Linked DNA regions of Homo sapiens: all the other regions are linked to region 4. Evidence: fine-mapped expression QTL. A gene starts in region 4. Each other region holds a variant in brackets. All regions are shown on one strand. Distances are between the middles of the regions. Region 1 overlaps LOC105373449 (a long non-coding RNA gene). Region 2 overlaps SMC6 (structural maintenance of chromosomes 6). Region 3 has its middle 12 kb from the start of MSGN1. Region 4 holds the start of SMC6 (structural maintenance of chromosomes 6).

What was found. PIP is the estimated chance that this variant, and not a neighbour inherited with it, causes the effect.
Region 1: its variant is the best candidate, but not a certain one, in a credible set for the expression of SMC6 in unexposed skin (GTEx, PIP 0.61).
Region 2: its variant is the best candidate, but not a certain one, in a credible set for the expression of SMC6 in blood mononuclear cells (TOPMed, PIP 0.74).
Region 3: its variant is the best candidate, but not a certain one, in a credible set for the expression of SMC6 in lung (TOPMed, PIP 0.56).

Annotation. Positions count from the first base shown.
Region 1 is chr2:17,790,614-17,798,338 of GRCh38, forward strand. All of the region lies in intron 3 of LOC105373449 (a long non-coding RNA gene), which reads right to left. Among named protein-coding and RNA genes, the nearest start is that of MSGN1, 22 kb to the right of the region's middle. RefSeq lists a silencer at 949-1,243. The variant G/A (reference allele first, on the strand shown) is at 3,211.
Region 2 is chr2:17,669,835-17,673,834 of GRCh38, forward strand. It overlaps SMC6 (structural maintenance of chromosomes 6), which reads right to left. Exons shown (of 28, transcript NM_001142286.2): 26 at 589-741. Among named protein-coding and RNA genes, the nearest start is that of SMC6, 82 kb to the right of the region's middle. The variant A/T (reference allele first, on the strand shown) is at 1,636.
Region 3 is chr2:17,800,543-17,808,267 of GRCh38, forward strand. No RefSeq gene overlaps it. Among named protein-coding and RNA genes, the nearest start is that of MSGN1, 12 kb to the right of the region's middle. The variant A/G (reference allele first, on the strand shown) is at 4,220.
Region 4 is chr2:17,750,050-17,757,774 of GRCh38, forward strand. SMC6 (structural maintenance of chromosomes 6) reads right to left here and starts at 3,761. Exons shown (of 28, transcript NM_001142286.2): 1 at 3,577-3,761; 2 at 2,929-3,015. It overlaps GEN1 (GEN1 Holliday junction 5' flap endonuclease), which reads left to right and starts at 4,089. Exons shown (of 14, transcript NM_001130009.3): 1 at 4,089-4,296. RefSeq lists silencers at 3,237-3,596, 3,737-3,876.

The sequences.
Region 1 (7,725 bases), 41 kb after region 4:
GGGGACAGGCAGAATTCCAGTCATTTCCTTACTCTCCAAAGCTCTAACCACAGGGATGAGTCCTCTGCAAGTTCTTAGTGGTGCATGAGTTAAGAGTGTCTCCTTTTTAGTGTTCATGTCTTAGTTGAATCACCTTTGCACAGTATCTGCAATGAGCCAGGCCCCGTGCTGATCATGTTAAGTACATTTTTTATTCTCTTGAAAGCAGTCCAGGGAAGGAAAGCAACATGCCTGAGGTCACACTTAGTACACAAATCTCCCAGTTACCTTTGGAGGTAGCATTGCTACTCCAAAGTACCATCTTTCTTGCAGGAACTGCTAAACAGCCTTCCAGTTGATCTTCCTGCTTCAAAATGCTCGTGCCTTTCTGTTGTGCACATATCAGCAAGATTAATCTATTGAAAACGCAAATCACATACTAACCACCCCCTGTGTAAAAGCGTCCCATGGCTTCTTATCACCCTCTGTAAATCCCAGCCTCCTCAGCAGCTGTGGCTACCTGTCTCCCTCACCTCATCCTCCGTCGCTTCCCCTTGCTCCCCTGGCCCTTGGCACATGGCTTGCTTTCTTTCCTTAAACATACCAAGCTTACTGTACACTCTGGCTCTTGCCATTGCTGCCCACTCTGTGTGGACTTCCCACAGACCTCTGGATGGTAAGCTGTTTATCACCACCGAGGTCTCAGCCTCTTGGCTAGTACTTTTGTGAGCACGTTAGCTAAGTAGCCACCTCCCACTCCTACCACCACTCCTTCACACTTGCCTCTCACCCTGTATTATTTTCTTTACAACTTATTAGATTTTTTTCTTTGTCTCCTATCACTAGAGTAACATAACAAGAGAATAAACTTTGCTTTACTCTTTGTTGTATTCCCAGAGCTTTGAACAGTGCCTAATATGCAGTATGCATTTAATACATACTTGTTCAATGAATAAATCAAGTTAGCTTTTCAACCCAAATCTATGTAAAGACAAAGCCCAGGCTTTGACCACGAACATGCTGCAATTTTTTATTGAATTCTTAAGATGGATTCAGTCCTGGGACAGGCATACTGCCAAGTACATGGGAAAACATCTGCTTCCTCCCTTCAAGATGTTTATAAGTTAGTTGTGATGCCAGACTCATTTATTCTTGAGATAACAAATACAGTAAGTGCTGAGTGAAGGGAAATGTATCAGAGGGCACCAGAATGTAGAAGAGAGTGGTCAGTGAAGATACAGGTGGTCCTTATAGGGCCTCCTAGAGCTGAGAAACTTGATAGGAGCCTTTTGTGGTGGATGCCAGTTAGGGGGAGGGTAAGACTGTCAGGTCTTGGATGAGACTTAGAGAATCAGTGAGTTTATCCAGGAAAGAGTCATCAATGACATGTGTTTTAGGGCATTCCAGAGAGGGACATTTGCTAGATACTTTTTTCTGGAAAAAAGCCTCACTCTTTACTTACAAGTATAGTTTTATGAGAAAACGCGGGCAAGAGAAGAGGAAAGGAGGAAAGAGAAAGCAAGGCAGTGAGGTTTCTTCTTTCTCACTCTGGCCATGGTTGTGGTAGGGGCAAGATGGATCGAGACTGGCACACAGTGAGTGCCAGATAATTATTGGCCCACTTACTCTTGAAGGTCTCCTCTGTGGGACTTTCCTGGAATTCCACGCTCTCTCCAGAAATAAATGGCCAACTGTGGGACCTAGGAGGCTACCTCTTTAGGGCCAGCAGTAAGGCAAAGCTGCCATGCAGCATAATCTGCCCAAGTGATTGGACTGCACAGACCCTTGGCCATTGGAAGAGACTGCACCATCCCAGAGTTTCCCAGAGGGCCACCATCATGAGGATTGCTCCTATCATGGCTCCCAGTGAAGGATAGAGCAAGGAGACCCCTGAGAACTAAATTGCCAGCCAGTGAAGATGACTTACTATGCTCAGAATTAACATTCATCCATCCACCACCCCATCCATCCATTCAGGAAGCAAATACTCTATGCCAAGAATCTTGCAAACTGTAGGAGCTATCACAAGGGTTAGATAGTTTCCTTTCCTTGAGGAACTCATGGTCTACTCATAAAGAAAACCATATGCTGTTAGTTTCTTAACTCTACCCATGTTTCCAGGGCAGAGTTGAATAAAAGATTTATCACATACCCAGGCTTGGCCACAAAACCACACCACACGAAACCAAAACACTCCATGAAGGGAAAGACTAATTAACCTTCCCACCCCCCCACCCCTCAAGCCCTTCCCAGAGAGGTGATAATGAAAGATTTGGTCTCTACTGAGCCACAACAGGATTTGCATTTTAAAGTTTGACAGATCTTTATAGGCCTTTTGATCTCTTTTCTGCTCTCTACCTACCCACCCCAGACTTGCTGCCTCCTCCCAAACCCCCCTCAGTTCTCTACCCTGAACAAGCTATAAGCTTCAGAAATGATGGTCCCAGGTCCAGAGGCCTCTAGGATATGTGCCCTGGTGTAATGTGCTCCTAGCCATATAGCTCCTATTTATTGAATATCAGCTGTATATCAAGTACTTTTCTTCCTAACCCGCACAATCACCCTGCAAGGTTCATATTATTTACCTTTTTTTAAGTGAGGAGGAAAATGAGGCATGGAGGTTAAATAACCTGCTCCAAATCACTAATAAAAAGTAGGAGCGACAGAACTAAAACCTAGGTCTGTGCACCGCCAAACCTATAACCTTTTCATTAAGCCACACTGACTCCATTAGACAATACTGGTTATTGTAGGCTATCGTAACTAAATCCTTCTTGGAAAGGTAATCCTGCACTCCAGTTTTCTTGCAGGTGTTATTCTGGAAATAGCCCAATAAACGTCACAATTTGATTTACTCGAGGACAAACTTGCAGCTGTCTTTTCTTTTAGAGCTCTTCTTGAGCTCTGACTTTTTCCTCTCTTTCTACTCATCTTTCACACAGACTACTGCAGCCGGACAGCTGCATGTCTTGGTTTGGTACTGTCATCTGCAGCCTCCTGGGCTTTGTGGAACAGTCTCTCCAACCCAGAGAAAGCCTATTGGAAACAAACTCAGAGTCTCAGATACTTATATTTTTGCAGCTGGAGGGAACCCAGAAAGCCATCTAAAACTGAGTTTCAGAGAATGACTAGTGCAAAATAACTGGTATCAGATTTACTAAAATACTGCAGCTTTGCTATGTTAAAGTAAAAGAAGGAAACAAGTCACATTAACAAATATTTCAATGTGCC[G/A]GGTGCTTTATCTCATTTAATCTTCACTACAACCCAGTGAGGTAAAATTAGTTACTATCCTTGTGCTCCAGATGAGCCCTGACTCAGAGACATAACTGACTCTACAGTGATAGCTGGCAAGACCAGGACCTCAGGTAACCGCAGAGAGCACAGACCCTCTTCCACACCGTGCGGTGGGCATGAAAAGGCGCACAACCAATATGCTGGCTGGTGACTGACTGGCCTGTGAAATTTGCTCCTGCACAGAAGAGCAAATCATTTTGCACTCTTAGTGAGGCCATGCCTGTAACCTAAATTCATCTGGCATTCACAGCCTGAGTCATACATACTTTGACCAAGAGGGCCCCTGAAAAATGGGGGCTACAGCCTCTGACTACAGCCTCTCCTAAAACATTCTGAGTGTGTGTTACCAGTTAGAAGATTCTGCAAGTTTCTTTCCTCCTTGGAAAGTCCATCCCCCACCCTCAAAGAGGGGGCATTAGAAGTGCCAAATTGGGAGCCATAAGAAAGCCGCTGCTGGCTGCTGAGTTGTCCTGTCGAGGTTGAGAGATCAGGTTCAAAGCTCCAGCCGCAGTCTCCCCGCCCCCACTCCCCACCCCACCTCTTGTCCAGAGAAGGAATGGTCCTTCCCACCCCCCACCATCATTTCTTGTAAAAACTTCTGGATTGTGCTCAGCTGGGGGTCATACAGGGAGCTCAAGGCATCCTTTCTGCTCTCTCCAGATCGACCCCAACCTCAGAGAGGAAGCTCTTGGGAAAGTTTCTCTCTAGGAAGAATGGCTACGGATGCAGAAATCTTCCCTCCTTAGCACCCAGCATAGATTTTGGTGTGGATTGGGCTGCTCCTAAGAAAGCTGTTTTCTCAGTGATTCTCTGTCAACCATGCAGCTGGGGTTCCAGCATTCAGAACAACAGGGGTGGGAGGTAATGCTGGGCCTGTGGCTTCAAATCTTACCCAGCAAGCCCTGGCCAATTGTTCTTTATGGTACAACTCACAATCCATTTCTATTATAGCATTTTTCTTGACTGTCTGTCCATACTAACCTCATTCTTCTCTGAAAGGATACATACCCACATATAACTATTGTGAGACCAGACTGTTCCCGAATGGCATTTGAGTTGTGCCTTGGGGGACACCTTGACCTCCTACCTAAGGAAATTTTTCTGCATCCTGATATTCCCCATTCTGGAGCATATAGTTTACTTGCTAATGACAGTTACTAAAGATGCTTACCTGACATAATTTTGCTAGCATGCCAATTGGGGAGCAAGCACTCCTATTAGGAAGCACTCATCTTCATTATTAATCCCTTCTGTAGCTCAGCCTTTTTAGATCTAGATCTCTAAATCTTCCCATATCTATAGATCCTATATCTATAGAACTATATATCCTAGACCTATAGATCTAGACCTGTATCTCCATATCTTCTCACCAGTAAAATTTATGTGGGCACATACACCATTTTTGTTGCATGCCTGAAGCTCATTCCTGGTCTCTCTCACGCTGACTTCTCTTCTAGACAGTGAGCTCCCTGGCACAGGGACCTTGTCTGGTTCCCTGTGTGCCTCCAGCACATAATGGGGTTTCTGCTCCTGCGAAGAAGCTAGGTACCCTCTGCCGCAGTAAGAATGGCACTGAGTGATTGCACAACTCAAATTGAGCTCCAAGGCTGCACACAGGGCAGAAATGAGAGAGGGTAGGACGATGAGTTTGACCAGCATTGAAAAGGGAAACACCTTGGGAAGGAACAGCCTGTACTGGATCAGGTGCCAGGTAAGTAATCCCGGGGATCATAAACCTCTAAAGCAACTGCTCTCAAATGTAGCCTTCCTAGAACTCATCTGAAGACTCTGTTATAAAAACAAATTACTGGGTTCCACCCCACTGGATTCGGATTCAATGGTCTTTGGACCACACTTACAGAAACTCTGCTGTAGATGGGAGAGAGATGTAGAGAGCCGCAGAAGAAAAGGAGAAGAAAATAATGGTGTTTTTTGAGTATAGACTCACTCACCACACGCAGTCAGGATAACAAACTCTCTCCCCGTCTGTCCCCCTCTCTGTCATTCTTTCTTCCTCCTTTTAATACTGTAGTTATAAAAAGCTTTTGAAAGTATAAAAAGCTTTTGATCACTGTCCAGAGTGATCAAATATTCGCCCATGGCGAATTTTTTCTTTCACTTTTTTTTTTTTTTTTTTTTTTGGAGGTGGGGAATCAGTACTCCTGGCAGAGGCCTGTCACTTTGTATGCAGGAAGGGCCATTTAACAAGTAACTTAGGTGGTAACTGAGGAAACTACAAGCCTACAAAGTCCTTCTTGTTCTGCCTCCACAGGGGAAATGGCTGACCCACCTAGGAGCCCACGGCATGAGCTGTTTTTTCCCAAGCTCTGCATTTCAGGTGCTTCCTGCTCAGTGCTTCTCCTCAAAGAACATACAAGGACAGGAGGTACCATGGCTACCTGCAGCTGTGGATTATGGAAAGCCCACTGAGGCTGGCCTCTCAAGGCCCAAAGATGACCATTTGCACCCAGCATTTCCAAACACAGTTTCCCAGACTGGGATCAAATGAGCTATAAGACAATTGCTTGAAGAACTCTGGACGAGGATGTCTGGGCCTCACCCCAGTGACTCTTGGCTCATGAGATCTGAGACAAACGCAGGAATCTATACCAGGTAATGATGGGCAATTGGATTTGGAAACCAAATCCAATTGGAGGACAATAGCATCACAGAATCTGTTTGGGTCCTCCAGCCGGCTGAGGTCAAAATCCCCATCCTACATCCGGGTAAAAGGCCTCCAGGCCTTTTTCCTACAATCCTATATGTCAAGACCCAGTTCTGATGCCATTTTTTCCAGGAAATTTTTCAGGGTCTCCCATGTGAAATTATTTCTCCTTTCTTTCTCCTCCCACAGCATATTTTCAGTGTCTTTATAATACTTTATAGCATCACCCCTCTCCTCATATAACATTTATCCACCACCATTGTGGAATAGAAATATAATGCCAACTGATTCCTCAAGGATCTAGAACTAGAAATACCATTTGACCCAGCCATCCCATTACTGAGTATATACCCAAAGGATTATAAATCATGCTGCTATAAAGACACATGCACACGTATGTTTATTGTGGCACTATTCACAATAGCAAAGACTTGGAACCAACCCAAATGTCCATCAATGATAGACTGGATTAAGAAAATGTGGCACATGTACACCATGGAATACTATGCAGCCATTTAACAAAAAAAGGATGAGTTCATGTCCTTTGTAGGGACATGGATGAAGCTGGAAACCATCATTCTCAGCAAACTATCGCAAGGACAAAAAACCAAACACTGCATGTTCTCACTCATAGGTGGGAATTGAACAGTGAGAACACTTGGACACAGGAAGGGGAACATCACACACCGGGGCCTGTCGTGGGGTGGGGGAAAGGGGGAGGGATAGCATTAGGAGATATACCTAATGTAAATCATGAGTTAATGGGTGCAGCACACCAACATGGCACGTGTATACATATGTAACAAACCTGCACGTTGTGCACATGTACCCTAGAACTTAAAGTATAATAAAAAAAGAAATATAATGCCAACCATATATCTTTACTTTTCTGTTAGCCACACTTTAAAAAAAAAATAAACAGGTGAAATTAATTTCATACTATATTCGATTTAACACGATATTTCAAAATGTTATTTCAACATGTAATCAATACAAAAATCATGAGTGAGATATTTTATGTTTTTGTTTTGTTGTCTTTATTTCTTTTGAAATTTTTTTTCTTTTTATGTAGTTTTAAAATCTTTTTATGATATTTTACATTTTTTATTTCTACTAAGTTTTTGAGATCTAGTGTGTATTATACACTCGCATCACATCTCAGCCTTGAGACTTCATTTCACATGTTAAATCACCACACGTGGCCAGTGGATGCCATGTGGAAGAGCACAGTACTGGCTTTTGAGGTCATGTCTGTGACTTGGCTCTGGGTCCTCAGACTGAGCACAGTCCCTTCCAAAGAGTCTCCATTGGTGTTTTCGTTTGGCTAGCTATTTTAAAGCTCAGGATCTTAGGATATAAAAGTAGGGAAGAGATACATCAGTTTTAAGGAGGGTGAAGCTGTCTGGGCATGGTGGCTCATGCCTGTAATCCCAGCACTTTGGGAGGCTGAGGAGGATGGATCACCTGAGGTCAGGAGTTCGAGACCAGCCTGGCCAACATGGTGAAAGCCTGTCTCTATTAAAAATACAAAAATTAGCCGGGCGGTGGTGGCACATGCCTGTAGTCCCAACTACTCAGGAGGCTGAGACACAAGAACTGCTTGAACCTGGGAGACGGAGGTTGCAGTGAGCCGAGACCATGCCACTGCACTACAGCCTGGGTGATAGAGCGAGACTCTGTCTCAAAATAATAATAATAAAAAAATGGAGGGCAAAGCCATCCAGAGCAGGCTTCCTATGAGAGGAGTTGAGTGGGAAGATGTTCAGCACAGGACACTGCGGGGAGCA
Region 2 (4,000 bases), 82 kb before region 4:
TGAGCCTCACTCTAACCATGAGAGGTAGGAATTGGTAATAATATTGTTTTGTAGATGAAGAAATTGAGACCCAATAAGTAGAGATATTTTGCCTGTCAGAGGTAGGTCTCAAATCCTATGCTTTTTAACTGGAAATTCAAAAGTTCTTGCTCGCTTATGTTCTGTACATTGTTCTGAAATGTGTGGGTATGAAGGAACAGTAAACAGTGGCTAGGGTGAGTCAAAGCCAGGGTGGTGAACAGGTTATAATTTTGTATTAAAACAAAAAGTCTGAACATATTTATGGGTTGATGAAAATAAGCTGGGAGAGAGGGTGAGGGAGAAAACGCAGATATGATGGAAGGCACGGATATCCATGCTGGGCGAGAAGAGGAGGACCCCTCCAGGGTCTCTAGGGTTACTGTGTGCCTAGAAGCAAGGGAGAGAACTCTAGTTCTTTAGTTCTTCCCCACTACTGGTCACAGACTAAAGAGTCAGGGCAGGATCTTTCCTGTTAGGGGTAAAACTAAAGAAAGATTTCCTTCCTTTAGAAATACATGTTTCAAACAAACAAAAAAATGAAAAAGAGAATTTAAAATTTAACAATACCATGTAGACATCAAATTCATCCAGGCATCTGAAAGGAGATTCTGCGATGGACCACAGGGAAAGAATAAAACACACTGTGGAGAAAGAACGTTCACCTCCAGACAAGGCTCTCATGTCATTGAAAGCAGCTTTATTTCCTTCTCCAGGCTGAACCTTGAAGAGAATGAGTTGACAAGGAACAAAAAACTAAGTAAATGAAAGGCCAGATTAAATTCTTTACAAGACAGATAAATAATAGATTTACAGTAAAAAGGAGATGGGAATAAAATGACTTAGTGATTTGGAAATACCCATTCCTTTCAAAAAATTTTACAGTAAAACAGTTATACGTATAATGGTACTTCTTGCTCTACTGCAAGAGAATAAAACTGAAAACCTTTTTCACCATAACTGAATCTAACAGACCAAAATTCCAAAGGCTAATTTAAAAAATGTTAATAAAACAATTTTTTTTCTGAAACAGGGTCTCGCTCTGTTGAACCAGGCTGGAGTGCAATGGTGTGATCTTGGCTCACTGCAACCTCTGTCTCCCAGGCTCAAGCAATCCTCCCACCTCAGCCTCCCAAGTAGTTGGGACCACAGGAGTATGCCACCACGGCCAGCTAATTTTTGTGTTTTTTTTTTTTTTCTGGGTGGAGTTGAGGTTTCTCCATGTTGCCCAGGCTGGTCTTGAACTCCTCGGTTCAAGCAATCCTCCCATCTCAGCTTCCCAAAGTGCTGGGATTACAGGTGTAAGCCACCACACCTAACCCTGAAACTTAAGCTTCAAACATTTAAAAGTGCTGAGATTTTTTGTTACTTGAATTATAGTGACACCTAGTGGTTAAGCTGCATTAAAAGTGATTACTGAACGTCAAAAGGACAGAAATCAACTTTAAAAAGCTTACACTGGCCAAAGAAATGCATTGAAATATATCTTTTAAAAGATTTAAAGGATTGCTTTAGGAATCCTTTAAAGGAACCCTAGAAGTTCGAGACCAGCCTGGGCAACATGGGGAAACCTCATCTCCACACACACACACACAAAAATACAAAAACTAGCTGGCC[A/T]TGGTGGCATACTCCTGTGGTCCCAACTACTTGGGAGGCTGAGGTGGGAGGATTGCTTGAGCCTGGGAGACAGAGGTTGCAGTGAGCCAAGATCATGCCATTGCACTCCAGCCTGGTCGACAGAGCGAGACCCCGTCTCAAAAAAAAAAAAAAAAAAAAAAAAATTTCTTTTGTATTGTATTTATTTTGAATTCTAAATAAAATCTTTTAAAATTTAAATAATTTTAAATTTCTTTTAAAAGCTAAATAAAATCTTTAAAAAATTATTTACTAAATAAAGGTCCATGGAAACAATAAGAAAGCAACTAATAAAATTAACAGCAAATCATTCACACAATTTCCTGAGAATATACAATAACATTAGGAAGGGTTCTATTTTTTTGACAAAATTCCAGATATACATATATGCATACAAGGTGAAAAAAGAGCAACAACTAGTTTCATATCAATAGCAGACATATAGCTTCCAATACTTTTCAATTCACTGTTTGAAAAGTGATACTGCTCTCAAGTGAGCATTCATTTATTTTTTAATATTAACATTATTAATATTCTAAGGTAAATATTCCAATTCTAAACATACTCTAAAATTTTACACCTATCATAAGTCTAAACAAACCAAACCAACAATCAAGCAAATAAAAATTCCCATATAAAAAAGCAAGAACTAAATACCAAGATGCAATCTTGCCCCCACACTGTATTTTGCACCAATTTAATAAATGAAGCCCCAAGTAAATCTGGGGGATCTAGCTTTTACCCTCTCATCTATTACTAACATATCATGGAACTTCAGTGTCACTTTCCTTATTAGTAAAATGAAGGCCACATAAATTAAAGATTCTTCTGGTATTCTTTTGAAAAACAGAGATGACAACATCAGAAAGTCTAGCTTGAGTTGTTTTGTATAGTTAGCTGTGGAGATAAATTATTCAAGCACTTCTAATACTTTTTTTTCTCCATTTTTTTATTACAGTAATAGTTTTTATAAAGAACACAAAAGTGTACAACTCAATTTTTACATGAATACATACACACACCTGGGTAACCACTACTGAGATCAAGACACAAGAATATCCCCAGCATCTAAGCAAACTATTTGTATATTACCATCCCTGAAAAGGTAACTATTATTCTGATTTTAATCACCCAAAATCACTCTTAACAGTTTCTGAACTTCATATGTAGAGGTTACACATACTCTTTTGTACATATACTTCAGATTTATATACACTATGTACATCCTTGTAACTGGCTTCTCTCACTCGCCATTGTCAGATCATCTATGTTGTGTGCAACAGCAGTTTGTTATTTTCATTACGGAACAGTATGTCGCTGTTTGAATATACCCGAATTTATCCATTTGACTCTAGGTAGACACTGGGTTTCTCAGTTTTGGGCTATGATAAATAAAACTTCTTTGAACATTTTCAAATATATCTGTTTGAGAAAATAAGCACTAATTTTTTCTTGGGTTTATGCCCAAGAATGGAGCTGCTTTAACAGACATCGACAGAGAGGTTTCCAAATTAGTTTGACCAAGTTACACTCCCACAAGCAATATATGAGAGTTGCAATTCCACATCCTCACCAGCACAAAATATTGCCAGTCTTGTTCATTTTCATCATCATCATAACGGTGTGACAGTAACTTACTGTGGTATAAATAATATTTCTCTGATGACTAACAGCGCTTTTTCATGTGTTTACTCACCATTTAGATACTTTAAAGTGGTTTCTATTTAAGCCTTTTGACTATTTTAAATGTGATGTCAGTCTCTTTCTTACTATTTTTTAATTCTAGGTAAGTCTTTTGTTGCATGTATGCATCACAAATATCTTTTCCTAGTCTGTAGCTTCTTTTATCACTTAATGTTACTTTTTGATGAAGTTCTTAATTTTAATAAAGTCCAAATTATCAATCTTTTCTTTTGAGTAGGTTGCTTTTTGTGTCCCATTCAAAAAAACATGAAGACATTCTCTTCCTCTAGAAGCTTGTTTTAAATTTAGGTCTATGATCAACTTCTAAATTACTTTTTGTATATAAAGTTAGGGGGTCAAACTTTGCTTACTGTTTATTATTTAAAAAAAAATTTTTTTTTTTAAATTTTTTTTTTGAGACAGAGTTTCGCTCTTATTGCCCAGGCTGGAGTGTAATGGTGTGATCTCGGTTCGCTGCAACCTCCGCCTCCCGGGTTTAAGCGATTCTCCTGCCTCAGCCTCCCGAGTAGCTGGGATTACAGGCATGTGCCACCATGCCCAGCTAATTTTGTATTTTTAGTAGAGATGGGGTTTCTCCATGTTGGTCAGGCTAGTCTCAAACTCCCCACCTCAGATGATCCACCCACCTCAGCCTCCCAAAGTG
Region 3 (7,725 bases), 50 kb after region 4:
AAGCACAAAAAACCTCCCTCTTTGAACTTTGGTTTTCTGAACTCTCCAGAGATAACAACCATTACCCACCTCATGAGACTGTTGTGATGCTCCAAAGATGTAATCGATATGATAATCTTTTACAAACTATATGACAGCATTCTTGTACTATTAATTATTAAGGTCCTTGTTTCTATGTTTAAAGTGAAAAAATTGCTAGAAAATATAGGACACTACAGTAAGCTTCTGTGGGCATCCAGATAATTGGTCACTGAGAACTGGAGGAGGCAGAGTGTTTCTGGAGAAAACAGTTGGCCCTGGCTTAGCGGGAGTGGTAGAATCTGAGAGGTCAAGGGAGAGGAAGGGACAGTTGAGTGAGGGACACAAGCCAGGCAAAGGCCAAGAAAAGAAAATGTGGTATATGGACAGTGTAGCATTATCCTGGAATCAGGCAGAGAATGGGCCTGGGGACCAGGAAGACATAAAGTTGGAAGAGTTGGGATAGGCCAGACCAGAAATAGTCTTAAATGGCAGGCAGAGAATTTATCAGGAGAGATTTTAGTAGTATGAAAAGTCAAGGAGTTATAAAAGTGTAACAATCACCTGGTCCTGCTCCCTGTATCTGTGGTTTTATCTCTGTTTAACAATCTAGACAAAGTGGCCAGCCCTGGGGGTGCTGTTGGCATCCTGCCACCCAGCTCAGTGCTCTTGTATCCTGGGAGGCCTTTGTTCTGTCCAAGTCATCAGTTCTTCACTAGAGACTATTAAAACTGCTGTTGCAAAATTATTACAGTGAAAGAGATCTGACCTAACCAACTCAACTCCATCTTGCTTCTAATCTCCAAGCTGTCCTTGTTCATTCCTGGACATAGGCCAAACTAACTTTGGGAGGAACTTAGTTTATAGTTTAACTTTGAAACAAAGACAATACTACTCCTTTCCTGAAACAAATCCCTTTCTTGACTGGGGACTAGACTGCCTTTGTAGGACCAAAAAGTTAGCCAAAAGATTCGAAATTATGGTTTAGGAGTCATGCAGCTGGAGGCTACAAGTTTCCGACCCTCCCCAAATTGGTCCCGAGAATAATATCGCTATTGTAAGACCTAAAATTAGTACTTGAGATATTTTGTAGACCCTGCACTTGATGGATCAGCTGGCACCACCCAGATTGATAAACTGGCTCATCTGATCTGTGGCCCCTACCCAGGAACTGACTGAGCGCAAGAGGACAGCTTCGACTCTCTCTGACTTCATCTCCCACCCAACCGATCAGTACTCCTGACTCACTGGCCCCTACCCACCAAATTATCCGTAACAACTCTGATCCCTGAATTCTGAGGAGACTGATTTGAGTGATAATAAAACTCTGGTCTCCCGCACTGCTGGTTCTGTGTGCATTACTCTTTCTCTATTGCAATTCCCCTGTCTTGATAAATGGGCTCTGTCTAGGCAGTGGGCAAGGTGAACCCTTGGGTGGTTACACTACCAGGCCCCAGCTCTGACTTTACCAAGTCAGAATCTCCAGGAGAGGAGCCTAGGAATCCTCTTTTTTTTTTTTTTGAGATGGAGTCTCGCTCTGTCTCCCAGGCTGGAGTGCAGTGGCAATATCTCGGCTCACTGCAACCTCCGCCTCTTGGGTTCAAGCAATTCTCTGCCTCAGCCTCCCGAGTAGCTGGGATTATAGGCACCCGCCACCCCACCTGGCTATTTTTTTTATTTTTAGTAGAAACGGGATTTCACCATCTTGCCTAGGGTGGTCTTGAACTCCTGACCTCGTGATCCACACGCCTCGGCCTCCCAAAGTGCTGGAATTACAGCCATGAGCCACTGCACCCGGCGGAACCGTCTTTTTAAAAATATGCTTTCCCTCTCCCCAGGTGATTCTTGATAGCAGGGAAGTGTGGGAATGCTGTGAATGTGAACTCTATGATTCCCTACAGCGAGAGGCTTATCCGTGGGCTTCATACCTGCTGGAGATGGAGGGTAACCACTCAGTCCACAAGGGGCTGAGCATAGTTCTTCAACTGCTCAGTAGCTACACTTCTGGGATGGAAAAGACTGGAACTTTTTTTCATGAAACAACATTTCCTCTCTTTCATCTTTCTTGTTGTCCTCCTCTGAGTCTCTTCTCCACTTCTTTCTACTCTTTGCAAATGAAACACGGAACTCCAACAAGGTCTCAGCAAACCTTATATCCTACCTGTCAATGTCCCAGTCATCTTTACAGGAGCACTTCCACCTGAAGCTCCTCCCTCCCTCCCTTCCTTCCTGCCTGCTTTTTTTTTTTTTTTAAATATTTAAATAAGTGTACTACCCATATGCTTTGATTCAACTTGAGAGCGCCTGTGATTCCTGAATCTTTTTCATTTGCACATGGACCTAATCAGGCCAGCCTTGACCATTCACTGGTTTTGAAATTCTAATTTTTAAATCAGTAATCTTTTTTAATTTAGAAAATACTGACAACTGTCAAGACGATAGCAACAATTGAGTACTGACAATGTCTGAGGGCAGTAGTATGACATTTCTTTATGTATATTGATCTTTACAACAATCTTGTAAAGTAGCTGTTGTTATTATCCCTTTATTTCAAGTAGAGGAACTGAGACATTAAGAAATGAAGTTACCTGCTTATAATCACTTAGTTAAGTAAGCAGAGAAGTCAAGGTTGGAGCCTAGGAACTCTGGCTCCTAACCACTAGAAGAAAGTAAGATGAATGAAGAAAAAAATACTCTCAATTCCTGTTACCAGAAGTAACCACTCTTAACACTTAGTCATATTTCTATGAGAAAGAATTTTCAATTGGATCAAAGTATTAATTTTATATGTCCTACTTAAAAGCCTTAATATTAAATTAAGCTTTGTATATTAAATGTTATTCATAATGATTTCTTTATCAACTATATAATATTTCATCATATGAATAGGAAATAATGTATGCAATTACCTCTTTGCTATTAGATATTTGTTTCTAATTTTTTACTGTAAGACTATGGCGAATATTTTTTATCCTAAATATTTGACTGTAACTTTGTTTAGTTGTATAAAGTCCTTGTGTCAAAAGTACTTTTGAATCTAAGATGAATTTTGGACTTTAAGTTACTTTAAAAATTGAACCAACTGACTCTCCCACAAGCAATGTGTGGGAAGGACCACTTCCTCATCCTCTTGCCAACTTTGCCAATTTGGGAGGTGAAAAACGGCCTTGCCTTGTCATTTCCATTTACATGTCTTTGATTACTACCGAGGTGAACATTTTCTTCTATGTTTATGAGCCACTTGTATTTCTTTTTCTGTGAGCTGTTTATTTATGCCCTTGTTCATTTTCCCAGTGGCAAGCTTGTATTTTTCTTATCTGTGTGAGTTCTTCATAGCAATAATGTTTTACCTGTCATGTTTGACTATCCCGTATCAAAAAACTGAAAAATATTTCCCCCAATTTCTTCTTTGCCTTATATCTGCTTTTTAGGTGTCAGTTAACTGGCAAGTATGGAAATCTGAATTGAAAACACTCAAAAGCAAAGGCTAAAGTTTGTGAAAATAAGCAGGTTCATTATGCAGACAACCATTTTTAGTATTCACTTTAATAACAGGACTTTTGTCATCACTGAAGAAAAATGAAGAAGTAATGTTGCACTTTTCTTCTTCTCAGGCTGGTAAGAACAGGGGAGAATCCTTGGAGAACAAACTCCGTGCAAATTGCTTTCAACTTTTTGACATGGGTATTAAAATGCCACCCCAAATACCAGTGGTAATAAAGAATCCAACTTAAAAGGGGGAGTAGGTGTAAATGTAACACATGAGATTTCATTTAAATCTTGCTGGCCAGTTGCTGAAGAATCCATGGAGAAGCACTCAAGGCTGCTACCCCTCCCGAGTTGGTGACAGAAAACTTGGCTATTTGGGGATAAATGTTGACATTCTGAGATTGCCGAATCAAGACAAGCTGCTCATATTTCCTTGCAATAAGAATAATCACAGCATCCTGCCCTGATGCTCTCCAGGGAGAATGAGCTTCTGTTCCTCTTTTTATTACCCTCTTCCTCTTCTCTTATGTTTCTTCACCCACACTTTGCAGTCCCCTCTCTGCCACCCTCCTATCTTCTGCATAACTGCCCATTGTGGGTGGACATGGTGACTGCATTTTGTTCCCAAATTAACATATTTAGTAATATTTTCAAAAGAGAAAGAGGTTTATATTCAGGTGCCAGGGACCCCGCAGGGACATGGCTGCCCCCA[A/G]ATGGATTCTTTTTAGAGTAAACCACGCTGCCTTGGCTTCTGTGCACATTCATTTGGCAAAGAAAATTCACAAGGCATTTGACTGTGGAGCGAGCTGATGAGACAGGGTCCTGAGCCCAGACAGTGGAAGTGCTTGAGAAAGGGAGCATCCCAGGTGTTTGGGAGGGAGAATGCTGCTTTTCCTCATGACCACCTAGTGAAGGGGATGAAGAAAAACAAAACTTCTGGTCAGGCTGGAGAAGTCCACAAGACTCTGTTCTAAAGGATTTCTACAGTTTAGAACTCTTCTGTTTCTCACTTCTCCTGTGAATTAAGTTTAATTATTTTGTTGCCGTTTATTTGTCTGTTGCTTTGTCCTGCCCAAGGGTTAAATACCCAGCCTGTGAAAATCATCTGTTCACACATTGCATGATGCTCTACAATTTATTATTAAATGGATCAAAACCAAAATGTTACTCTTTGGCTTTACAATGAGCCATAAAGTCAAATCACGAGGCCCAACTACTTTTATTATTTCCTTAGCATAATGGCAGTCACATGAAAGTCACAGTCCCAAGAGCCTCACACAGGCTTTGCTGAAACTGTCACAGGCTTGACAGCACAGCAGCTCCAGGCCGCTATCCATGCAGGAGAGCACCACTTTCAGTTCTCTTTGCTAACTCAAGGACACAGGAAAATGTCACATTTCACTTAGTTGTTTTCTTCACACATACACACACACCTATATTCCCTTTGCCCCACAAGAATTATCTATTTTCTGGTGAATGTTAGCTGAGTGCCAAGACTGTGTGGCAGTGTGAAAGGGCCCAGGTTTTTAACTTTTTTTTTTTTTTTTTTTTTTTTGAGACAGAGTCTCACTCTGTTGCCCAGGCAGAGTGCAGTGGCATGATCTCGGCTTACTGCATCCTCCGCCTCCCATGTTAAAGAGATTCTCCTGCCTCGGCCTCCCAAGTAGCTGAGATTACAGGCGCTGGCCACTACACCCTGGCTAATTTTTGCATTTTTAGTAGAGACGGAATTTCACCATCTTGGCCAGGCTGGTCTTGAGCTCCTGACCTTCAGTGGTCCACGCATCTCGGCCTCCCAAAGTGCTGGGATCACAGGCATGAGCCACCACTCCTGGCCCAACTTATGTCTAACTGTACACACACAGGCTCTGTCCCATGACTGGAAGGCCAGGGCTGGGCTGGCCAGTGGAGTTCTGTATGGCTGTGGCTATAAGAAGGTACTATGGAGTGTACAAAAGTCAGGGGAGTGTGTAGAGCTCAGGGTGGGCAGGAGCCCCCACAGCAAAATACAGCTACTGAAATCAGGGTGCACAGAGCCAGCAGGGTCTGAGTGTCTCAGAGACAAGCAGTGAGGGCAGGGATGGGCGAGAGTACTGCAGCTGGCTCTCGGTGTGGCAGCTGCAGAGCCGATGGGTGTGGCTATGGTTTGGAAAGAAGCTGTGTCCCATGACCTTGGGCAAGGTCCTTAGCATCTGAGCTTTGCTTCTTCCCTTGTAAGATGATGATAATGCCTACCTAACTGGACTGTATGGAGGATGACATGAGTGAATGTATGCAAGGCCCTTATTTTTAGCTCCTAGCATAGAGTACGTGCTGTAAGTACTCAAAAAATGGAAAGTGTATTACTGTTATCAATATTAATATACAAAAGGATTTTATTTTTAAAAGAATGTTCTATATAAAGTGTTTAATTCTAGGAAAATATAATTAAATATCACCTTTACCTGCTGCTTGATAATAATAATAATGTGGCCTAAGGCCAGGGAAAGCACTAGAAGTGGTAGGGAATGACAGCTGCCTTCTATTCTGGAACTGCAAACCCAAAGATGTAAAGCAACTACAAACCTCACAATGAGGGGTCCTTCCAAAATCCTCGTTCACCTATCTCCTCTCTCGGAACATAACATCACTCGCTGAAGTCTTGTGATCCTGGGGTCAGACTGCCTAGGTCTAAATTGTGCTCTTCCACTTACAAATCTGGTCACTTGGGGTAACTTTTTTTTTTTAACTTCTATAAGCCTCAGTTTTTTCTTATTTAAGGTGGGAACAGAAGGCTGGGTATGGTGGTTCACACCTGTAATCCCGACACTTTGGGAGGCTGAGGTGGGTGGATCACTTGAGCTCATCAGTTTGAGACCAGCCTGGGCAACATGGTGAAACCTCATCTCTACAAAAAAAAAAAAAAAAGAAAAAGAAAAAAAATTAGCTGGGCATGGGGTCACATGCCTGTAGTTTCAGCTACTTGGGAGGTTGAGGTGGGAGGATGGCTTGACCCCAGGAGGTGGAGGTTGCAGTGAGCCGAGATCGTGCCACTGCACTCCAACCTGGGCAATAGAACCAGACCTTGTCTCAAAAAGAAAAAAAAATGAATAAAGAAAAGGAAAAAAAAAGTAAGATAGGAAAAGAAATAATATTTTTATAAGATTTAAATGGAGCACTTAGTAGCACTTAGTAGTAGAGACATTTATTATTATTATTGCTATCATAGCTGAGATAACTGTGGGGATGGCCAAGGAAGGCGGTGCCTCTAAAGATTACACTATTTCTCAGAAACAGCTTCATACATACAGCTTCACTGGAGAACCAATAGAACACTCAAACACCTTCCCCCAACACACACGAGCACACACAAACACAAATACACACACGGCACTCCTTCAAAACTATAAGAGTCAGGCCTGTTCGCTAACCAGGGCAATAAGTAGTTATGTGGACGCCTGTCATGTCCAACCAACCATCTAATTTAGGAATGATGATAGAAGTCTAAACCTACTTAATCTTTTTAGTACCTATAGGACCCAGGACTCTGGCTAATCTCAGGTGCTCTGTACACACTGGATACATGACTGAATGGGGCCAAGGAATCAATCAATCAATCTTTTAGGATTTACCAAGTCTCAGGTCAAGCCTGAGTTCCAGCTTCAACAGCTTTGCAGGGCCCATCGTGCAGATGCCTCCAACTGGTGGGTAAAAGCCTAGGCTCCAGTCAGCCTGCCTAGGCTCTCATCCTGGGGCCTTGGGCAAGTTACTTAACTCCTCTGTGCCTCAATTTCTTATCAGTAAAACAGGATTGGTGATGATAATAGCACCTACCCCTTAGGGTTGTTGTGAGGATGAATGTGGGTTCATCTGTGCTAAGCACCTGGAATATTACTGGTGCACTCTGCCTCTAGTCGTGCTCCACGGGTGATGATTAATTTTATGTGCCAACTTGCCTGGGCCACAGGATGCCCAAGTAGCTGGTTCTACATTATTTCCAGGTGTGTTTGCAAGGGTATTTTCAGGAGAGATTAGCATGTGAACTGGTAGACTGTGTAAAGTAGATACTGTGGGTGGGCATCATCCCCTCAGGGCTTGAAAAGAACAAGAAGACTGAGGAAAGTTGAGTGGTCTCTCTGCCTGACTCCTTAAGCTGGGACATCAATCTCCTGTCCTCAGTGGTTTTCAGTGCTCCTAGTTCTCCGGCCTTCAGATCTTGACTGGAATCTACACCATCTG
Region 4 (7,725 bases):
AATTATATGAGACTTATTCATTAAGTCCACCCATCTAAAATTTCAGGATCAGCAAAACCGGGAAGTATAAAGCACAGCATTTCAGTTAATAAAATCTGAACACTTAGATTTCTGTACTGAAAACATCCTGTGGCTCAATATAGAAGATAGATGAAACAGAAAGTAAGAATAGTAGCAGAAGAGATGAGTTGCTAAACAAAAGCAGTGGTAATATCAGGGACAAAGGGAAGAGATAAAACAAGAGATTTAAAAGACTGAATTAGTAGAATTGGTGAGTACAAATGGGTGAGTAGAATTAACATCTGCTGAATAACTACATACTTAGCTTTTGAGATGAACACTTTCTATTTCCTTTGATCCCCAACATCTTTATGAGATAAATATTGCCCTTATTTTTACAAAAGGAGAGACTGAGGCACAAGTAAATGACTTGAATTTATGTAGCTACAACTTAGTTCTAACATACAAAGGCTTCTATAGCTCTAACATAGCAGAGCTCAGATCCAAATCCAGGTTTGTCAAAACCCAGTTAAACCTCTTTAACGCCCAGGTTCCTACTGGCATAAACTGAAGTTTGACAGTTAATTATTCATAGAGAGTGAAATTGGCTATTAATCTGTCCTTCATCTCGTCTATCCTTCATTAAACTTAAAAAAAAGATTCTATTATTGGCTGGGCGGGTGGCTCATGCCTGCAATCTCAGTACTTTGGAAGGCCAAGGCAGGCGGATCACCTGAGGTCAGGAGTTCGAGACCAGCCTGGCCAACATGGTGAAACCCCATCTCTACTAAAAATACAAAAAAAAATTAGCTGGGCTTGGTGGCGCATGCCTGTAATCCCAGCTACTCAGGAGGTTGAGGCAGGAGAATCACTTGAACCTGAGAGGCAGAGGTTGCAGTGAGCCGAAATCATGTCACTGCCCTCCAGCCTGGACAACAAGAGTGAACAGCTGTCTCAAAAAAAAAAAAAAAAAAAAAAAAGATTCTCTAATGTTACTATTAAAGTCAATCAAAACTTTGGGTGTGCTTTATAAAACTTCATTTTGTGTTTCATCTTCACACTTAATACTAAATGCCATTATAAGTTCATGGAACAGGTTTGGCAAGTAGGGAGAATGAAATTTATTTTATTTGAAAACACTGAGTTTGGGCTGGGCTCAGTAGCTCACGCCTTGTCATCCCAGCACTTTGGGAGGCCGAGATGGATGGATCACTTGAGGTAAGGCGCTCAAGACCAGCCAGCCCAACGTGGTGAAACCCCATCTCTACTAAAAATACAAAATTAGCCAAGTGTGGTGGTGCATGCCTGTAATCCCAGCTACTCCGGAGGCTGAGGCAGGAGAATCGCTTGAACCCGGGAGGCAGGATTGCACCACTGCACTCCAACCTCGGCGACAAGAGTAAAACTCTGTCTCAAACAAAAAAAAAAAAAAAAGAGGAAAAAAAAGAAAGAAAGAAAACACTGAGTTTCAAGTGCTCCTAAGGTATTTTGAGATAGAGGCCAGTCAGTAGTAAAGGATACTCTGCAATGGAGAAAGATTTGTGGGTGGAGCTAAGGAAGCTACTGGAAGTAGTTTGAATTTGGTGACCAAGAAAAGCATGCTCAGAGAGAAAAGATGTTAACTTGTTTAAATAGTGAATCAAAAATGCTAACATTAACCTAAGCAACTACGCTTGACCCTCAGTCAGCTGGACTTATCGTTGTGTATAAAGAACTATGGCATTTAATTGTGTCTTAAATATAATGCAAGCTATCACGGTAAAATTTTGAGTTACTTACTAATTCCTAAAAGTAAGCCAAGTACAGCTTTAATTATTTTTCCTAACTTTGGTCTAAAAATGACAGTCAAGATTTAGGTAGGTTTTACATAAAATTCTACAGATTCAGTAAAATACACTCAGTAAAATAAACCTTTGGGGAATAAAACTTGTTTTTCACTGTAATACCTTTAACATGACTTGTGTACTTTTTGCCAGGCTCAATACTAACTGGTTTATACGGATTGCAGACAGATGTCGATATATAACTACATAACTTTCTCTTCCTCTCTGTGTCCACATATTTAAGAATCCTGTCAGCTAGGTACAGTCAATCCCTAAGAATTGGTTCCAAAATGACAGCCCCTCTCTCTCACTCAGATACCAAAATCCACAGATGCTCAAGTCCCTTATATGAAATGGTGTCATATTTGCATATAACCTCCCCACATACTTAAAAGTTATCTCTAGATTACTTATATAACCTAACACAATGCAAATGCTATGTGAATAGTTGTTATACTGTACTGTTTAGGGAATAATGACAAGAACAAAAAAAAGTCTGTGCAACCATCCACTTTTTTTCCTCTGAAATATTTTCAGTCCCTTGATTGAGTCCACGGATACAGAGGATGCACTGATAACTGTATTATTTCTTCCAACTTGCATAAGAAGAACTGAAACTTAAAGAGGTGGTACCAACCTGCTCAGAGTCACACAATTCTGGCTTTTTGTGATATAAATACACGCTTTTAGGCAATATACTAGTGGCCTCCAAACGTTTTGTACTTGCACCCATTAAGCAAAAGAAATTTGAAATACATGTTCCAACATAAAATTAATACCCTATGTTTCACGTAGAAATCAAATGAAATAAATCTAAATAGAAGTTCTAATATGTTCCCTCTCTACCCACACACCCATGGAACAAACTGCATGCCACTGTATATACTATTGTACATGTTAAAAGATCACACTGCAACCATATAAAAGTCAGGAGATTTGGGTTTTTCTTTTTTCCTTTGAATATATATTACTGAGAAGTTTGCCTTTAAAACACTGGCTTTTAATCTACTACTCGTGACATATGCAGAGTAATAAGCGCTCACAAAACTTCTGTCTTGAGGGCTCAAACACCAAATGATTGCTCTAAGAATTTTCACAGTATTACCTCAAACCCTATTGGTTCTACAACCTTTCTCTACCCTAGAGTCCTGTTTTCCGCAATTCCCAATTGGGATTCTTCTCCGGTTCATTTCTGTAAGAAATGAGGGCAGAGAAATGCCATCAGTAAACCTTTGAACACATGTTAATTTTTCTAGGTAATACAATTTGCATTTTCGTAAAACTGGGCTTTAATGACAAATCCGATTTCAGTGATCTTTGCATACACCCTTTAAACACACCAGTTGCCGCCTGCGAGATATCATCAGACTCATGCTAAGAGCCACTCCCTACCCCAGCTTTCCCCAGACCTCTCCCCGCTTTACAGTTATTCGCCACAGCCCGGGAGAGTCTGGGGACGGCCGCCTGGGAGGGGACGGCCGCCTGGGAGGGGACGGCCCGGAGCAGACGCCAGGTTTCCCGCGGCTCAGGAGACCGGTGCCGCCTCGGAGAGCGCGCGAAGGTGCCGCCGGCCGCCCGACCCGCCCGAGGAACGGACATCTCCCGCCCGGGCCCGCAAGGACGACCATGAACACCGCCGCAGCTCAGCTGACCCTGCCTCTCCCGGGTGGCTGGGGGTCGCCAGCCAAGGGGGCAGCGGGCGGAGGATGAACCCCGGAGCAAGGGAAAGCGACAGCGCGCGCCTTCACCCTACCGCCAACAAGTCGAAGTCTCCCAAAGGAACCTGATCGGCGGGGCTGCCGTGGTACGACCGGCCGCTAAGGCCACCCTGCGGGCGTCTCGACCTCGGCTGACCGCCGCTGGCCCCCTGGGAACCGCGTGCCGGCCGCAGGAGAAGGTAGATTCCCGGGAGCCCCGGCGCCCACCGCGGTACTAACCGCGCCTGCGCCCCGCCCTCCCTCCCTTCGGGCTCCGCCCGCGCCTGCGCAGTTGCGGGGTTTCGCGCCGCCGGAGTCTGAGAGGCCGGAAGTGCCCCTTAGCGGGTGGGGGAAGCTGGTAGGCACGGGCGGCTCCGCAGTGACCGGACTCGGGGGAGGTGAGTGATTTGCCTAAGTAAAAGGGAAAGATAATTGAGCGCCCCCGGCAGCTGGTCTACGCATGCGTCCGCTAGGCCGGCTGGGAGCCGGCAAGGGAAAGCCGAGCGGGCCCCATTGGGGGAAAGGGGTCAGTCACTTCCCGGAAGAGGCGGGGCCGCGCGGGCCCGGCGCTGGATTCGAAACGCTTCCTGGTGCTCCTGGGCCTGGCGGTTGAGCCCGGGGAGCTAGTCTTTGCTTGGGTAAAGAAAGAGGACTTTCCTTTTTTTTTTTCCTTTTGAGAAAATTCAGAAATTTGGAGGCACAGTAGTTAGGATTCAGGCCAAACTGGTAAATGACGAAGGGGCTTCTTCCAGAGCCAAGGAGGAAGGGTTGTCCGGGTAAGTCCCGCGGGACGTGGAGAGACGGCGCCGCCCGGGTCCTCCCACTGATTCCTTTGACCATCTGGCTTACGGACGAGCTCTTTGTTCGCTGCTCCTCCGAAAACGCCTTCAATGACTCCCTTTGAATAAAGTAGGAAGTCCGAACCGAGCCGCCAGGCCGCGACTTGGCCCCTGTTTTCCACTCGCGAGGGCCCTGCGTCACCCCGCCTCGGGAAAGCTGCGCGTTCTCCGGCCGCTTGCGCTTGGCCGAAGCTGCTGGGTCCCGCTGTGCTTCCCCCGGGCATGCGATGGGGATAATTCCCACGCCTCGCTCAAAGCCATCCCGGGAGAGCCCTCCCTGGTCCCCATAGGCACAGTTGGGTGTTCCCTTTTCCGTGTTAACCTTGTATTTCGGATATAGTTCTGTTATAGTAATTACTTTAAGGTATTGTAGTTATTTACAATCAGTCTTTCCCCCACGGTAACCTAGAGTGTAAACCCCCTAAATAAACGTCAGAAGTAATGAAGTCTTAACTTCCTTGGCTTAGGTTTCAGCGCCCTTCTCAACCCCACACTCCCGCTTCAGTCTTTACACAACCCTTCCCATGAATATGCTGACCTAACAAGTAACCTACTTTTCATACTCCAAAATCTTCTCTTCTGTGTGGGGAAAATAATGCATTGACTGCCACCTCACTCCACCTCCAAATAAATTGATGTTGAAATTCTGGCCTCCGGTAATGGAATTCTTTACATCAAAGTCACTTTTTATTTCTAAAAGTAATCACATATATATTATATTCCTACTGTGGCCCTTGCCATGGATCAACGAAAAATATGACATAGTCAAAATAGACCAAAACATCTGGCCTTGTTGTAACCAATGGGAAACACGGTTGGGAGGTCCCTACTTACATGTCACTTGCTTCAGGAACCGTTCCTTGATTCCTAAGTGGGGGACCTTTTTTCCTAAATACAACTATAGCTTGCTTTCTTACCTCTTAAGCCCTTTTTATCTGCAGTCTCACTTACCCTACTAAGGTCTTTAAATGCAGGGCTTGATCTTCCATTATTGTATCTCCAGCACCTATAAAGCTTTCCTGTTAAATAGTAGACATTTAATAAGTATTTATTGATAAACGTGAAGTATGCCTCAACGTTTAGGCTAAATTCATATGAAAATAAAATTGAAAAAATAATTTTAAAGAACAGCATTAGTTACTGAGATTATGTGGTAAATCCCTTAAAATATAATCTTGCATTGAAATAGTTTTCACCATTTACCAGTCTTTATATGAATATATACTCATCTAAATGGAAATTGGGAAATTTAAGCATTTTCTGCTTTTCCGAAGTAAATTTTCTAATGTTTTTCTTAAAGCTGAACTAAATTGCAAAACTTGCTTTAATAAAGTGTGTATTTTTGCATCAGTTAAGCCCCTGACCTCTTTATGTTCTTTAAATTTGATTCATTAGTGAAATTAACAAGGTTCTGTGTTTTTCTCACCTCATTCAGTTTTATAATTAACCAATAAAAGCTTATTAGCTTTTAAGGAAGTTTTAGGAACTTAAATTGATTTATGGGCACCATATGGTTACATCAAAGGACTTGTTTTTGTTTTAACTGGAAGTGGATTCTTAAGTCCTTTAAGATGGAAATTTATGTTCTTTCTATTATACCAAGCAATACTTTCTGAAATAGAGTGATTTTTTTTTATTCCATGCTACCAGTTGGTCATGCAATTCAAATATTAAATACTAGATTACAGATATTAGAATCTTGTAATGCATCTGGTTTAATACCTGTCATTTTGTAGAACGGTTAAATGTCTTCCCAAGGTCATACACCTAATCAGTGGTATATTCAAAACCCAAATCCTAGGCTTCCTATCTGAAGTCCATTGCTTATGAAGTGGTTTGCTATGTGTTCTGACTTTGTTGATTCAAATAAGTAAGCTAAATCAATTTAAGCCATTAATAGGTTTATAAAGTTATTTGCTATGTGTTGTTCTTACATCATTGATTCATGTAAGTAGACTTGTGTGACAGCTAATTCTTAAAAAATTATGAAGATGTTAGACTTCTTTTGATATATATATGTTGATTGTATGAACAGATTGACATCAATATACTTATTCATTATAAAAGATTTGAGTGGGAACTCACCAAATCCCACACCAAAAAAATTTAAAATTTTACCATAGTAAAAAAAACTAAAAAGCAAGATGAAATTATACATAGTTCTTGGTGTAGTATTTTTAATTTTTATTATTTATTTTTATAGAAATGGGGTCTCACCATTTTGCCAGGCTGTTCTCAAACTCCTGGCCTCAGGTGATCCGCCTGCCTCGACCTCCCAAAGAGCCAGGATTATAGGCATGAGCTACCATGCCCGGCTAGTGTAGTATTTTTAAATTTTACTTAATGCTGAGCCATTTTCAAATAACCTCATCACATTGATTATGACCTCATGCAAGAACCATCTGTTCTATCTTTCAGTGTAGTTGTACTTTAATATCTTAGAAGCTATTGCATTCTGTCCTTTTTTGGAATGTTTTATGCTTTTACAGTCTTAACCATTGCTTCTTAATATCACTTCCGCGGAACAGCTGGTGCAAAGAACATGTGATAAGGAATGGAAAACAATTGATGATGGAAACAGAGATTTGGAGTTAATTGCGTTCTTAAAATATTATGATGTTCTTTCTAATAAAATGTACATTTCACATAATTTTCCTCTTTCAGAACTAACCATGGTTAATCATTCTTTAAACCAGGTTTGTTTCCGACAAAAGAAATGAAATAATAAAAACTAAATTCTAACTGTAGTAATCATGTGATATTAAAGATATTATTTATGGGGTTAAAAGCCCTCTTTATCTTGCTTAGGGGTTTCCAATAATCGAATCAGTGCTGGACTTTTTTTTTTTTTTTTTAGGCATGGCTGCCCCCTGTTAATAATATATTTAATTAACAGCTTTACACAATGATCTTAATATACTTGAAATACTTAGAGGACTGCAGTTTATAAAATCAAGAGTCTACCTTATTGCTGTTTTATTTTTTTTTTTACCATAACCCTCAGAAGGAATACAGTTAACATCACAGTCCTATATATAAATGTGTGTTTATGTGTGCCATCATAAACATCACTGCACTAGGTGGCAATCTTCACTACTATTCATTTGTGTATGTGTAGTCAACCTACGAAAGGAATCATTAGAAACAGGGTAGGAATGTTGAACCTTAGAACCGGAAGTTGCCAGAGAAAATATGTGCCCTGGCCAACTCCACAGGACTAGTTCTAGGCAATCTGAAGGAAACCAGAAAATGTGAATTTCTCTTCCCTCAAAAAGCTATACTGAAGTAGTATTTAATATTCAAGTACTTGTAAATTTGCAGAACAGTACTTTTTAATTTGACCCATGAATTCTATTTAAATTTGTC